Linked DNA regions of Homo sapiens. The protein of the gene in region 1 purifies or fractionates together with the protein of each later gene. This does not show direct contact. Each region holds a gene or a part of one and is shown in the gene's direction. Other genes may lie near its edges.

Region 1 (2,685 bases):
CTTGCCACCACGCCTGGCTAATTTTTGCATTTTTAGTAGAGACGGGGTTTCACCATGTTGGCCAGGCTGGTTTCAAAATCCTGACCTCAAGTGATCCACCCATCTTAGCCCCCCAAAGTGCTGGGATTACAGGTGTGAGACACCGTGCCCAGCCAAAAAAAAAAAAAAAAAAATTGTTAAAGAAATATCTTCAGGCACAGCCCTCCAAACTCATTCGTATTCATTCAACAAATAAGTATGAACTATATGTCAGGCACTATGCTAGAGGCCACAAAAAACACACAGTCCCTCTTTTACAGATTTTATAGACTAGCAGGGGAGACAGAAATGGATCAAGTAAACACGAGTGTCAAATGTCAAGTGTGCTAAGTGCTAGGAGAGAGGGCCAATGAACTATAAGAATAATAAGATGTGACTTGAAGGGGAGAGCAATGAGCAACAAGAAGAGGAAAAGGTAGGCAGAGGCCAGCCACACCAGGCCCTGTGGGCCTGTTAAATATTTGGGGCTTTTTAAGTTTTCATACCATTTCCCATCTGCTTCCTGCTAGGCATTACGCTACCCGCTTTTTATTTTATTTTATTTTATTTTATTTTTTAGACAGAGTCTCATTCTGTTGACTAGGCTAGAGTGCAGTGGCACAATCTTGGCTCACTGCAGCCTCTACCTCCTGGTTTCAAGCAATTCTGCCTCAGCCACCTGAGTAGCTGGGATTAAGGCGTGCCGCCACTACTCCTGGCTAATTTTTGTATTTTTAGTAGAGACGGGATTTCACCCTGTTGGCCAGGCTGGTCTCAAATTCCTGACCTCAAGTGATCTGCCTGCCTCGGCCTCCCAAAGTGCTGGAATTACAGGCGTGAGCCACCCCGCCCGGCCATGCTACACGCTTTAAACACATTTCCAAACTTACCCTTCACAAACACATTATGAGATAGGAATGATTATCCACATGGGGCTCAGAAAAGGAAAGTCATTTGCCCAGAATCTATGTGACTCTAGAGCTGGCTCCTCATCATCGTGTCTATTGCCTCCTGTTTACCCCTCCATCAGGACTGTGTGTGTCTCTGTCCACGTGGAAGAGCTCCCCACAACTCACTTTGCCCTATTGTAAGTAGTTCAACCTCCACCACCTGTTTCAGAGCCCAAATGCAGTGGCTCTTCCCTGAACTTTTTCAGCACCTACAGCTTCTGTACTTCTGAAATCTTGAATGATGGAAAGTCCCTTCTTTGACCATATACCTCCTGGCCCAGCTCAAAAATCACTGTTTTTTTGTTTGTTTAATTTCTCTGACTTCTCCAGGCAGGGTTAGTCATTCTTGCTTTATGCCCCTTGGCACTCGGTTAATTTTCCTATCTTGGGGTTTACTGCATTCTTTATCTCTTACCTTCCCTGAGCCATCTTGGTGCCTGAACACAGTTCGTGGCCACCGAAGGTGCTCGATGACACTTGTTGAATGAGGGGTTCTATTGCTCCCTTCCCTCCAATTCCCACTTGCCCTCCACCTGCTACTCTGTTATCTACTGGCTCTGCCCGTCTATGTGTACACATGCCTGACACCTCAGACAAGGTGACTCATGAAGGATGCCCCTGACTAGCTTGCCCTGCCTCCTCTGTTACTGTCTTTGCCGCATGTCTTCTGAGTCAGTATAAGGTGGTGGTTATTAGTAAGTGATCCTGAGTCAGACTGCTTGGATTCAAGCTCCACTCCTGCCTCACCGACTGACTTCAAGAGAGTTTCCTTAGTTCTGTAAGGAAAAGCTCTTCATCTGTTAAATGGGGGTGTGACAGGAGCACCTACCTTCTAGGGTTTTCACAAGGATTACAGGAGGCCACATCCACTGGGTCTGGACCACAGTAAGTGCCCAGTACCCTTGATCTAGAGTTACTATTTTTCATGTCAATTGATGCACAGTCTTACTCCTCTACCTATTGTCTTGGCCAGCATCCATCAGTGTGTCTGTCTGCTGGGGAGATGCAGGGAGAAGACTGTCAATTGATCTCTGCTCCCTGGGATGGATCAGCCGTCTCCAGCTTTGTGTACCATCCTTTTCTCTCTGCGTTTCCCCAGGGCTCCCTGTGCCACTACTTGACCCAGTACACCAGTGACTGGGGAAGTTCCCTGCGGATGGCACTGTCCCTGGCCCAGGGCCTGGCATTTCTCCATGAGGAGCGCTGGCAGAATGGTGGGTGAGCTGGGCATAGGAAGTCAAGGGAGCCACAGTGCTATGTTTGTGATTCTGCCTTAGTTTGGAGGGGAAAGATTGGGTCAAAAGAGGGAGGAAGAGCCGGGCACGGTGGCTCACGCCTATAATCCCAGCACTTTGGGAGGCCGAGGTGGGCGGATCACAAGGTCAGGAGATCGAGGCCATCCTGGCTAACATGGTGAAACCCTGTCTCTATTAAAAATACAAAATATTAGCCGGGCGTGGTGGCATGTGCCTGTAGTCCCAGCTACTCGGGAGGCTGAGGCAGGAGAATCACTTGAACCCGGGAGGCGGAGGTTGCAGTGAGCCGAGATCGCGACACTGCACTCCAGCCTGGGCGACAGAGCGAGACGCCGACTCAAAAAAAAAAAAAGAGGGAGGAAGAAAATCCATGTTCCTTCAACCTTGGATTCCCCCACAGGCCAATATAAACCAGGTATTGCCCACCGAGATCTGAGCAGCCAGAATGTGCTCATTCGGGA
Region 2 (3,397 bases), on another chromosome or scaffold:
TTGAAGAAGTGCAATATTAAACCATAACAGGTTACCATTTTTCACCTGGCAGATTAACAAAGATCAAACAGTTAGCTATTCTAGGGTTTGATGAAGTAGGTGTTCTCATACAGTGTTCTCAGTACTTTACATGTATCCTTTTACTAAATCCTGACAACAATCCTATGAGATAGTACTGTAATTTTCCATATATATGGATGAGTTAACTGAGGCACAAAGAAAGTTAAATAACTTTTCTCAAAATTAAAGTTCCAGAACTAGAATTTGAACTCTAACTCTCAGATACTCTGAAGGCAGAGCCCTCAACTGTTCTTTTTTTTTTTTTTGAGATGGAATCTTGCTCTGTCACCCAGGCTGGAGTGCAGTGGCACGATATTGGCTCACTGCAACCTCCGCCTACCGGGTTCAAGTGATTCTCCTGCCTTAGCCTCCCAAGTAGCTGAGACTACAATAGCTGGCCACCATGCTGGGCTAATTTTTTGTATTTTTAGTAGAGATGGGGTTCCATCGTGTTAACCAGGATGGTCTCGACCTCCTGACCTTGTGATCCGCCTGCCTCATCCTCCCAAAGTGCTGGGATTACAGGCATGAGCCACCGTGCCTGGCCCGCTCTCACTCTTAATAAACCACATAGTACAGGTTGAGTATCCTTTATCTGAAATGTTTGGGACCAGAAGTGTTTTGGATTTGGGATTGTTTTTTGGATTTTTGGATTTACTTACTGATTGAGCATCCCATATCTGAAAATCTGAAATTCAAAATGCTCCAGTGACTGTCATGTAGATGCTCAAAATTTTTGGCTTTTGGAGCATTTTGGATTTTGGATTTTCAGATTTGGGATGCTCAGCCTGTATTATTCCTGTCAGTACCAGCCATGAGCCATGAGGGCATTATAAAGGCAAGTCAGAGAACATTGCCATCATTTGAGTGCCTTCTACATGTTAGATTCTGGAAATTTTATTAACGCATCAGATCCTTGCAATAACCTCAGGAGGTAGGTGATAGTATTCTTACTTTATGGAAGAAGAAACAAGCTCATAGAGATAGAGTAGTTTATATAACGAATTACACAACTGTAATCCAAGCACTTTGAGAGGCCGAGACGGGCATATCACTTGAGGTCAGAAGTTCGAGACCAGCCTGGCCAACATGGTGAAACCCTGTCTCTACTAGAAATACAAAAATTAGCTGGGCATGGTGGCACATATCTGTAGTCCCAGCTACTCAGAAGTCTGAGGCACAAGAATTGCTTGAACCCAGGAAGTGGAGGTTTGAGTGAGCCAAGATCACGCCACTGCACTCTAGCCTGGGCAACAGAATGAGATTCTGTCTCAAAAAAAAAGGACAGCTAGCAAATTTTGTAGCCAGAATCCAAGAGCCCATGCTTCAAGGATTGTATATAAGAATTTGATGAGGAAAAAACCATACATACGTACATACATACATACATATAAAACTTCTAGCATTCTTTGTCTCTATGGGGGATTTTCTCATATGGGAGGATCTAGCATTCTGGGTTTTTGTGGTCTCTGCTCAGTTTGTAGATGTACCAGGCTGTTATCCTTTGCTTATAATATCCACTCTGAATTTCTATCAGCACACCCTCAGTTAGACTTAATGACTTGAACATTTTAAGGGTTCCCTTCCCTGTAGAGCAGAAATAACCTAGAAATTCAGGGATGGACTTTAAGAATGAATCACCTGAATTTGTATCCCAGTTTTTATCTATAAATATATTGGGGCTGGGCATGGCGGCTCATGGCTGTAATCTCAACACTTTGGGAGGCTGAGGTGGGAGGATTGCTTGAGCCTAGGAGTTCAAGACCAGCCTGGACAACATGGTGAGAACTTGACTCTACTAAAAATAAAAAATAAGCCAGGTATAGTGACACATGCCTGTGGTCCCAGCTACTTGGAGAAGGCTAAGGCAGGATGATCCCTTGAGCCCAGGAGGTCGAAGCTGCAGTGAGCTGTGATTGTGCCACTGCATTCCAGCCTGGACTACAGGATGAGACCCTGTCTCAAAAAAGTGTGTGTGTATGTGTGTGTGTGTGTGTGTGTGTGTGTGTGTGTGTGTGTGTGTAGGAAAGGTAGAGTCTATTAGCTTGTATCAGATTTGTAAAGGAAAGTTAACCACTGCCTTTGAGCCTAAGCAGCCATCATGCTTAATTTTCATATCAGGACTCGGAAGCCCTCCAGAGCTAAGGGTGCCCTAGTCAAATGCTTCATTGACAGTCTCTGTAGCACAGTAAGAGTCATCTTTCACAATTTTACTTATAACCAAGAACCTAATTAAATAAGTGATAACAAAAAATTATTATTTTACTTATAACCGCTTCATTTATTCATCAGAAGGCTTTACCCACCCATAATTGAGAAACCAGATGGACAGGCGTTTTATGGAAGCTCAAATACAAAATGCTAGGACGGGTGCGGTGGCTCACGCCTGTAATTCCAGCACTTTGGGAGGCTGAGGCAGGTGGATCACGAGGTCAGGAGATCAAGACCAAGACTGGCTAACTCGGTGAAACCCCGTCTCTACTAAAAATAGAAAAAATTAGCCGGGCATGGTGGTGGGCGCCTGTAGTCCCAGCTACTCGGGAGGCTGAGGCAGGAGAATGGCGTGAACCCGGGAGGCGGAGCTTGCAGTGAGCCAAGATGGCGCCACTGCAGTCCAGCCTGGGTGACAGAGCGAGACTCTGTCTCAAAAAAAAAAAAAAAATACAAAATGCTATCCTGAAAACCTACCTGAGACCTTTTTCTAAACTTGGGTGTAGTGTGAGGCAGTGATGGGTAGAGAGAAAGGGGATCAGTGACAAGCCTTGAGATTTAAATTAACAATGAATCTCTGTTTGTGAGCCTTCCTTACTTTTCTGTCTCCTCCCCCAACTCAAAAAGAACCTTAACTGTTAGAATAAGCTTGTTCAGTGCACAGTCTGTGGGCTACATGAGGCACAGGATGGTTTTGAATGCGGCCCAACACAAATTCTTAAACTTTCTGTAAAACATTATGAGACCTTTTTTGCATTTTTTTGTTTGTTTTTTAGCTCATCAGCTATTGTTAATGTTGGTGAGTGTGGTCCAAGACCATTCTTCTTCTTCCAATGTGGCCCAGGGGACCAAAAGATTGGACACCCCTGTTTTAGGAGGACAGATAACTTGACCTAAATAATAAAGGTCAGGAAAGGAAAAGCAGAAAAGCGTTTCAAGGGAATGAATTAGGAAGACATCTAACCTTGCCAGGAATAAACACACAAATTCATAAAGGAGTTGTAATAAAGGACTAAATTGGGCCAGGCGCGGTGGCTCACACCTGTAATCCCAGCACTTTGGGAGGCTGAGGCAGGTGAATCACAAGGTCAGGAGTTCGAGACCAGCCTGGCCAACATGATGAAAC
Region 3 (3,526 bases), on another chromosome or scaffold:
ATCTCCTTGGGATCTTTCTAGAAATTGCATTAAATGCAGAAAATAATTTGGGTAGTAAATTTTGATCAGTAGTATGTAATTATCTTGAGCCCCATTTTTTTAAATACACTTTTTCCATCTCCTTTGGCAAGAGAACTTTGGTAAGCTGTTTACTGAATTTATTAAAATTCGTCCTTTCTAAAATATAGACCATCTATTCCTAGGCCCTTGGACTGGACAGTGCCAATGAGAAAGGCTTGTATAGGAGGGGTGAAGCCCAGCTGCTCATGAACGAGTTTGAGTCAGCCAAGGGTGACTTTGAGAAAGTGCTGGAAGTAAACCCCCAGAATAAGGCTGCAAGACTGCAGATCTCCATGTGCCAGAAAAAGGCCAAGGAGCACAACGAGCGGGACCGCAGGATATACGCCAACATGTTCAAGAAGTTTGCAGAGCAGGATGCCAAGGTGTGTGCAGAGCCTGATGACTGCAGGTGGATCAAGAGCCTGACCATGCCCCTTTGATTTTAGGGGACAGGAACAGCTAAACAACCCAAGAGGCTCAAGAGCAGGGAAAACGATTTCCAATCTAATCTGAGGCTGCTTTGGATCCAAAGGTCGAGTAGGGCAGTTCCAGTCACCAAAGGCACACGTCATGAGAGATGAGAAAACTAAATTCCCTTCAGATGTATTAGATTGGTTCAAAAGTAATTGTGGTTTTTACCATTACTTTCAATGGCAAAAACAGCAATTTTGCACCAACTCCCCCCGCCCGCCCCCCGGGCCCCTGCCCGAGTCAGAGTCTCACTCTGTCACCCAGACTGTAATGCAGTCGTGCTAACATGGCTCACTGCAGCCTTGACTTCTCTGGATCAAGTGATCCTCCCACCTCAGCCTCCTGAGTAGCTAGGACAAGCACACTACCACACTGGGCTAATTTTTTAAAATTTTTTGTAAAGATAGGGTTTCACTTTGTTGTCTAGGCTGGTCTCGAACCCCTGGCTTCAAGGGTTCCTCCTGCTTTGGTCTCCCAAAGTGCTGGGATTATAGACATGAGCCACCATGCCCAGCCCTTTTGTCATTTTTGAAAAATTGTAAACCCATCAGGATTTTTTTTTCAAGTAAGACTTACGATTTTCCCAGGAAATGGGATGTTATAGGAGCCCCATCATCACACCTGTTATCTTGAGGGTCGGCAGCCAGCCTGAAAAATGTGGCAGGAGAGGTCTGTCTGCAGAGAGGGCGGCCTCCCTACAGCATAGTTGGCATTCTGGTCCTGTCCCCAGTCTCCAGGAATGCCCAGACTTCATTATCCCACAGCTGTCCCATGTGTCAACCAAAGAAAGGTGAAGCTCCCACTCTAACTATTGGTAGCACAGCCCTGACCTACCCAGCTAGATATCCTAGAGAAAATCATTGCAATACCTCGTGTTTGGGACCTGATACACAGTCTGGAGGAGCCAGGAATTATTTCACTTCTTTATTCTCTAACCTTCTTGATTGCTTATTTCTTCCTTAGGAAGAGGCCAATAAAGCAATGGGCAAGAAGACTTCAGAAGGGGTCACTAATGAAAAAGGAACAGACAGTCAAGCAATGGAAGAAGAGAAACCTGAGGGCCACGTATGACGCCACGCCAAGGAGGGAAGAGTCCCAGTGAACTCGGCCCCTCCTCAATGGGCTTTCCCCCAACTCAGGACAGAACAGTGTTTAATGTAAAGTTTGTTATAGTCTATGTGATTCTGGAAGCAAATGGCAAAACCAGTAGCTTCCCAAAAACAGCCCCCCTGCTGCTGCCCGGAGGGTTCACTGAGGGGTGGCACGGGACCACTCCAGGTGGAACAAACAGAAATGACTGTGGTGTGGAGGGAGTGAGCCAGCAGCTTAAGTCCAGCTCATTTCAGTTTCTATCAACCTTCAAGTATCCAATTCAGGGTCCCTGGAGATCATCCTAACAATGTGGGGCTGTTAGGTTTTACCTTTGAACTTTCATAGCACTGCAGAAACCTTTAAAAAAAAAATGCTTCATGAATTTCTCCTTTCCTACAGTTGGGTAGGGTAGGGGAAGGAGGATAAGCTTTTGTTTTTTAAATGACTGAAGTGCTATAAATGTAGTCTGTTGCATTTTTAACCAACAGAACCCACAGTAGAGGGGTCTCATGTCTCCCCAGTTCCACAGCAGTGTCACAGACGTGAAAGCCAGAACCTCAGAGGCCACTTGCTTGCTGACTTAGCCTCCTCCCAAAGTCCCCCTCCTCAGCCAGCCTCCTTGTGAGAGTGGCTTTCTACCACACACAGCCTGTCCCTGGGGGAGTAATTCTGTCATTCCTAAAACACCCTTCAGCAATGATAATGAGCAGATGAGAGTTTCTGGATTAGCTTTTCCTATTTTCGATGAAGTTCTGAGATACTGAAATGTGAAAAGAGCAATCAGAATTGTGCTTTTTCTCCCCTCCTCTATTCCTTTTAGGGAATAATATTCAATACACAGTACTTCCTCCCAGCATTGCTACTGCTCAGCTTCTTCTTTCATTCTAATCCTTGCTATTAAGAATTTAAGACTTGTGCTTACAATATTTTTGACCTGGAGTGGATCTATTTACATAGTCATTTAGGATCCATGCAGCTTTTTTTGTCTTTTTAAGATTATTGGCTCATAAGCATATGTATACTGGTTTATGGAACTTTATTTACACTCCTCTATCATGCAAAAAAATTTTGACTTTTTAGTACTAAGCTTAATTTTTAAAAACAAAATCTGTAGGGTTGACAAATAAATAGTTGCTCTTCTACACTAGGGGTTTCACCTGCAGGTTTGACACGCAGTTGCTCGCTTTTCCTGCCCTGTCAAGCTTCTCTGTTCTGGCGTGAGTTGTGAAAGAGTTGAAGACAGCTTCCCATGCCGGTACACAGCCAGTAGCCTAAATCTCCAGTACTTGAGCTGACCATTGAACTAGGGCAAGTCTTAAATGTGTACATGTAGTTGAATTTCAGTCCTTACGGGTAAACAGATTGAGCATGGCTCTCTATTCCCTCAGCCTAAGAAACACTCATGGGAATGCATTTGGCAACCCAAGGAACCATTTGCTTAAACCTGGAACATCTCACCTTTTTAAATCCTAAAAAACACTGGCAGTTATATTTTAAATTAGTTTTTATTTTTATGATGGTTTTATCAAAAGACTTTTATTATTAGATTGGGACCCCCTTCAAACCTAAAAATCAAGTTATTTCCTTTTATAATACTTTTCTTCCCCATGGAACAAATGGGATCAATTTGTGAGTTTTTTCCTTTAATGATAACTAAAATCCCTCTAATTTCTCATTTATGCTTTTGTCTTTTTTATGAAATATTTCTTTTAAAAGCCCCAGTCTCACCTACGAAATATGAAGAGCAAAAGCTGATTTTGCTTACTTGCTAAACTGTTGGGAAAGCTCTGTAGAGCATGGTTCCAGTGAGGCCAAGATTGAAATTTGATACTAAAAAGGCCACCTAGCTTTTTGCAGATAACAAACAAGAAAGCTATTCCAAGACTCAGATGATGCCAGCTGT
Region 4 (3,526 bases), on another chromosome or scaffold:
CCCTCCTGGCTGCCTCTCCCCCTCCACACTCTCCTCAGATCTCTGTGCCTCGCACTCTGGAGCAGGCCTCGGCGCTGCCCCATCTGCCCCAGGGGATTTCCAGAGTGAGCTCAGGCATCTGCACCGGCTGTGGAAGCGCTGGCTGTCGGAAGCGGCTCCCAGTTTCCTATCCAGCTGAGCCAGGCTGGGGGAGGAGTGGCGGGGACGTCTGCGCCTGCCCAAGTACAGGCTGACCTCGGCGGTGGTGGTGGCTAGGCAGGGACAGCTCTCAGGGCACGGGCGGCTTCACAGGGAAACCAAGCCTGCCCGGAACGTCGTTTTGCCTCCCAGGAGACCTAGGATGGGTGTAAGGAAAAACACATCTTCCGGGAAGTACAAAGCGCCACCGTGTCCACGGCCCCTCCTTCAGCAAATGTATCCGGGCGCCCAGCTGGGAGTTGTTTGTGGTCCAAAAGCTACTGGAAGGCAGTTCCAGCCCCAGTGCCCGGCTCCTGCAGGAAAGTGGTTTCAGCCAAGTGGGCAGTGCAGGAGGTGGGCCAGAGACACTGTTTGGAGTGTGAGGGGAACCTTGTGACCAGCAGAAAAGGATGGAGGAGGATTCCAAACTTCAGGAGCTGGGCCAAGGTCCAGGGGCTGCTGGGCACAGTCGTCCATGTGTGTGCTCAGTAGGATGAGTTCACTTAATTAGTCTGTGCCTCAGTTTCCCCAGCTGCACAGTGGGCTCACTAACAGTAATCTACCTGGAGGGTTGTGTGAGGTGAGGACTCCCGTGGTAAAGGTGTGCAGCCTGCAGTGCAGTGCCCGGCCATGGCAGGAGCAGTGCGGGGAGCCATCGTGATAATGGTGTTAGGGTGGCTTCAGGTAGGGGCGTGGCTGCCGGTCCATGGCACAGACTTGGGAGATGGCCGAGGCCCTGCCTCGTGGGCTGTCAAGGACTAGATGGGAACACGCATATGGAGCAGTGGCACTGTTGTTATTGTTATTCTGTAGGAGTGGCTGTGTCTGGGGTAGGGGGACCTCAGTGCCTTGCTGGCCAAGGGAAGTGAGGGTGGGTTTCCATCTGGGCATGAACTGCTGACCTCTGCCCAGGGGTTTTCCTGGCCTGCCAGTGTGTGTGTGTCACTGACAGTGGGGTGGGGGGCAGCTCATGGAGTTGGTGCCCCTCAGCTGTGCTTTCCCTGGCGTAGGTTCCTGGGGCTGGGAGCAGGGTAAAGCTGCCTCAAGTCTTGGTTTTCTCCTCTGCCTCCCCCGTGTGGCCGCCAACCCTGTGCCAGCAGGTGGTGCAGGGATGGCTTCCTGCCCCGGTCTCTGGCAAGAAACCCTTTTCCCTCTCCCAGTGGGTCTCCCCAGGTTGTCAGCTCCATTTAGTCATAAGAAGATCTGGGGCCAGGCGCGGTGGCTCACGCCTGTAATCCCAGCACTTTGGGAGGCTGAAGCAGGCAGTCACAAGGTCAGGAGATCGGGACCATCCTGGCTAATACGGTGAAACCCCGTCTCTACTAAAAATACAAAAAAATTAGCCAGGTGTGGTGGCATGCACCTGTAGTCCCAGCTACTCAGGAGGCTGAGGCAGGAGAATCGCTTGAACCCAGAAGGCAGAGCTTACAGTGAGCCGAGATCACCCTACTGCACTCCAGCCTGGGCAGCAGAGCGAGACTCCGTCTCAAAAAATAAAAGAAAAAAAAAAGAGATCTGGAAGAGGAGGGTTGAGGATCTGCTGTGGGGTTTGGAGTGGGAACAGGACTTTGAACCCTGGCCTAAGCCCCTTTTGACCTTGCCAGCCCGTGAGGATGATGACAGCCGCCTCTCACCCTTAGCCTCAACTAAATGAGATCATGTCTGTAAAAGTCCTTTGCAAGCTGAGCAGTGCTGCCCAGGCAGTTAGGTGCTGTCCCTTCTTCATGAATCAAAGGCCTTTGCATGCAGGACTCACTCCAGCACCCCAAACACTCAGAGTCCTCACCCGTTCTTTTTCTCCTGCCCCTCACCAGTTCCAGGGTGGCAAGAGGCTGCAGAGTGTGGAGGTTAAGAGCGCGGGACCCTGGCTGGGGTTGTAGCCCCACCACCTCCCTAACTGTGGGACCTTGGACAGGTGACTTCATCTCTCTGAGCCTCAGTTTCCCCACCTGTCGAATAGAGATCTGTCCCCTGTGGGGCTCGTGGCTCAGATAGAGACTAAGTGAGCGATGGTGGCAGAGCTCAGCCAGGAATAAAAGAAACTTCCAACTGGGCGTTGGGTGTGTGCCAGGCACTGTACATTCATATCTGCTGTCATCTTCCCTGGCTCCCTCCGTGGTGGGGCATCAACCCATCTCACAGCAGAGGAGGCAGGCTCTGCAGCACCCACTTGCCCAAAGTCTCCCAGCAGGTAGGTGGCCCAGGCAGGTTTGAGTCCCATCTCTGGCCCCTTATTCCTCCTCATTCCTCAGCAAGAGAGCTCCACGCTGCCCCGAAGCAAGGTGTGGGCCATAAGCACGTGGCTTTGCAGGCCTGCTTGGGACAAGCAACCTGGTGTCCCCGTGTCCTGAAACCCTGGCAGTCACTGGGGCTAGGGCCAGCCTCTTCCCTGGGAAGCAGGGAGCCCCAGGGCAACGTTCTGGGAAATCAGGTTTATTAGTTCCTTAATGACCGTTTACAAGCTCAGAAGTGTCTGCCTGGCATTTTCCCTCCCTGCTGAGGGGCTCCATGCAGCCGGAGGCAGAACTGGGCCTCCAGAAGCGCTCTGAGTGTGTCGAGGTGAGGGCCCAGGGATGCCGTCGGCTCCCTGGGCTCTGCATGCTCACACCCAGCCAGTCCAGGCCTATTTCTGGCTGGGTGGCACTGGGCAAGGTGCTTACCTCTCTGTACAATAGGTGAGACCTTGTACCTCAGCTGAGCTGTTCCTGGGGTGAGCCCTCGTTCATGGTGACAAAGTCACATAGATCTTAGACCCTGGGAGGATACTAGCATCTTATGCATACACAAACTGAGGCTCAGAGATGTTAAGTGGCTTGCCCAAGATCGCACAGTGGTTAGAGATGGGCCTGTGACCCTGTCTTCTGCCATCGGGACAGATTTTCACTGTCTGGAGGCAGGTGGAAACCGGGTGGGCTCCTACTTTGTAAGCACAGGACAGTGCCCTGTCTGTGTACATGGGACAGTCACAAACGGAAATGGCCTGGTCACACCTTAGTGTCAAGGAGCCTCCAGCAGGAGTGAAACGGACCTCTCACACAGACCCCAGGCTGCATCTCATCCTGCCCCAACCGCTGGGCTTGTGCTGGACCACCACTGCTTCCAAGGACCCGTGAAAACCCGGCTGCCGGGATGCAGAGAGGCAGACTTTCATGAACGTTTGCAGCAAAGGGCAGTTCCCACCGAGCCTGTGTTGCTGTGGCACTGTGTGGTGCACACCCCACCCCGGAAACCCTCCAGTGTCCTGGTGTCTGACCCCAAATGGACAGGGCCTTTTGGCCCCCAGGGGCCACTTCTGACTCCTCCCCTTCACAACGATGCTGAGGGAGCAGGAGAACTGGGGCCCGGCTGC

Evidence for each region. The genes of interacting proteins can lie anywhere in the genome.
Region 2: the proteins of AMHR2 (region 1) and SGK3 purify together in Homo sapiens (affinity purification with mass spectrometry, with the first as the bait; one large-scale study listed by BioGRID). This does not show direct contact.
Region 3: the proteins of AMHR2 (region 1) and FKBP5 purify together in Homo sapiens (co-immunoprecipitation; 2 studies listed by BioGRID and IntAct, with this or other methods). This does not show direct contact.
Region 4: the proteins of AMHR2 (region 1) and RHBDF2 purify together in Homo sapiens (affinity purification with mass spectrometry; one large-scale study listed by BioGRID and IntAct). This does not show direct contact.

What each region holds. Positions count from the first base shown.
Region 1 is NC_000012.12:53,426,829-53,429,513, forward strand, and holds part of AMHR2 (anti-Muellerian hormone type-2 receptor isoform 1 precursor), read left to right. Parts: intron 1-1,048; coding exon of another isoform or gene 1,049-1,105; intron 1,106-2,067; coding exon 2,068-2,182; intron 2,183-2,624; coding exon 2,625-2,685. UniProt on the Homo sapiens protein: On ligand binding, forms a receptor complex consisting of two type II and two type I transmembrane serine/threonine kinases.
Region 2 is NC_000008.11:66,855,760-66,859,156, forward strand, and holds part of SGK3 (serine/threonine-protein kinase Sgk3), read left to right. Parts: intron 1-3,397.
Region 3 is NC_000006.12:35,573,911-35,577,436, reverse strand, and holds part of FKBP5 (peptidyl-prolyl cis-trans isomerase FKBP5), read left to right. Parts: intron 1-203; coding exon 204-443; intron 444-1,494; coding exon 1,495-1,602; 3' UTR 1,603-3,526. UniProt on the Homo sapiens protein: Immunophilin protein with PPIase and co-chaperone activities. Component of unligated steroid receptors heterocomplexes through interaction with heat-shock protein 90 (HSP90).
Region 4 is NC_000017.11:76,494,919-76,498,444, reverse strand, and holds part of RHBDF2 (inactive rhomboid protein 2), read left to right. Parts: intron 1-3,526. UniProt on the Homo sapiens protein: Regulates ADAM17 protease, a sheddase of the epidermal growth factor (EGF) receptor ligands and TNF, thereby plays a role in sleep, cell survival, proliferation, migration and inflammation. Does not exhibit any protease activity on its own.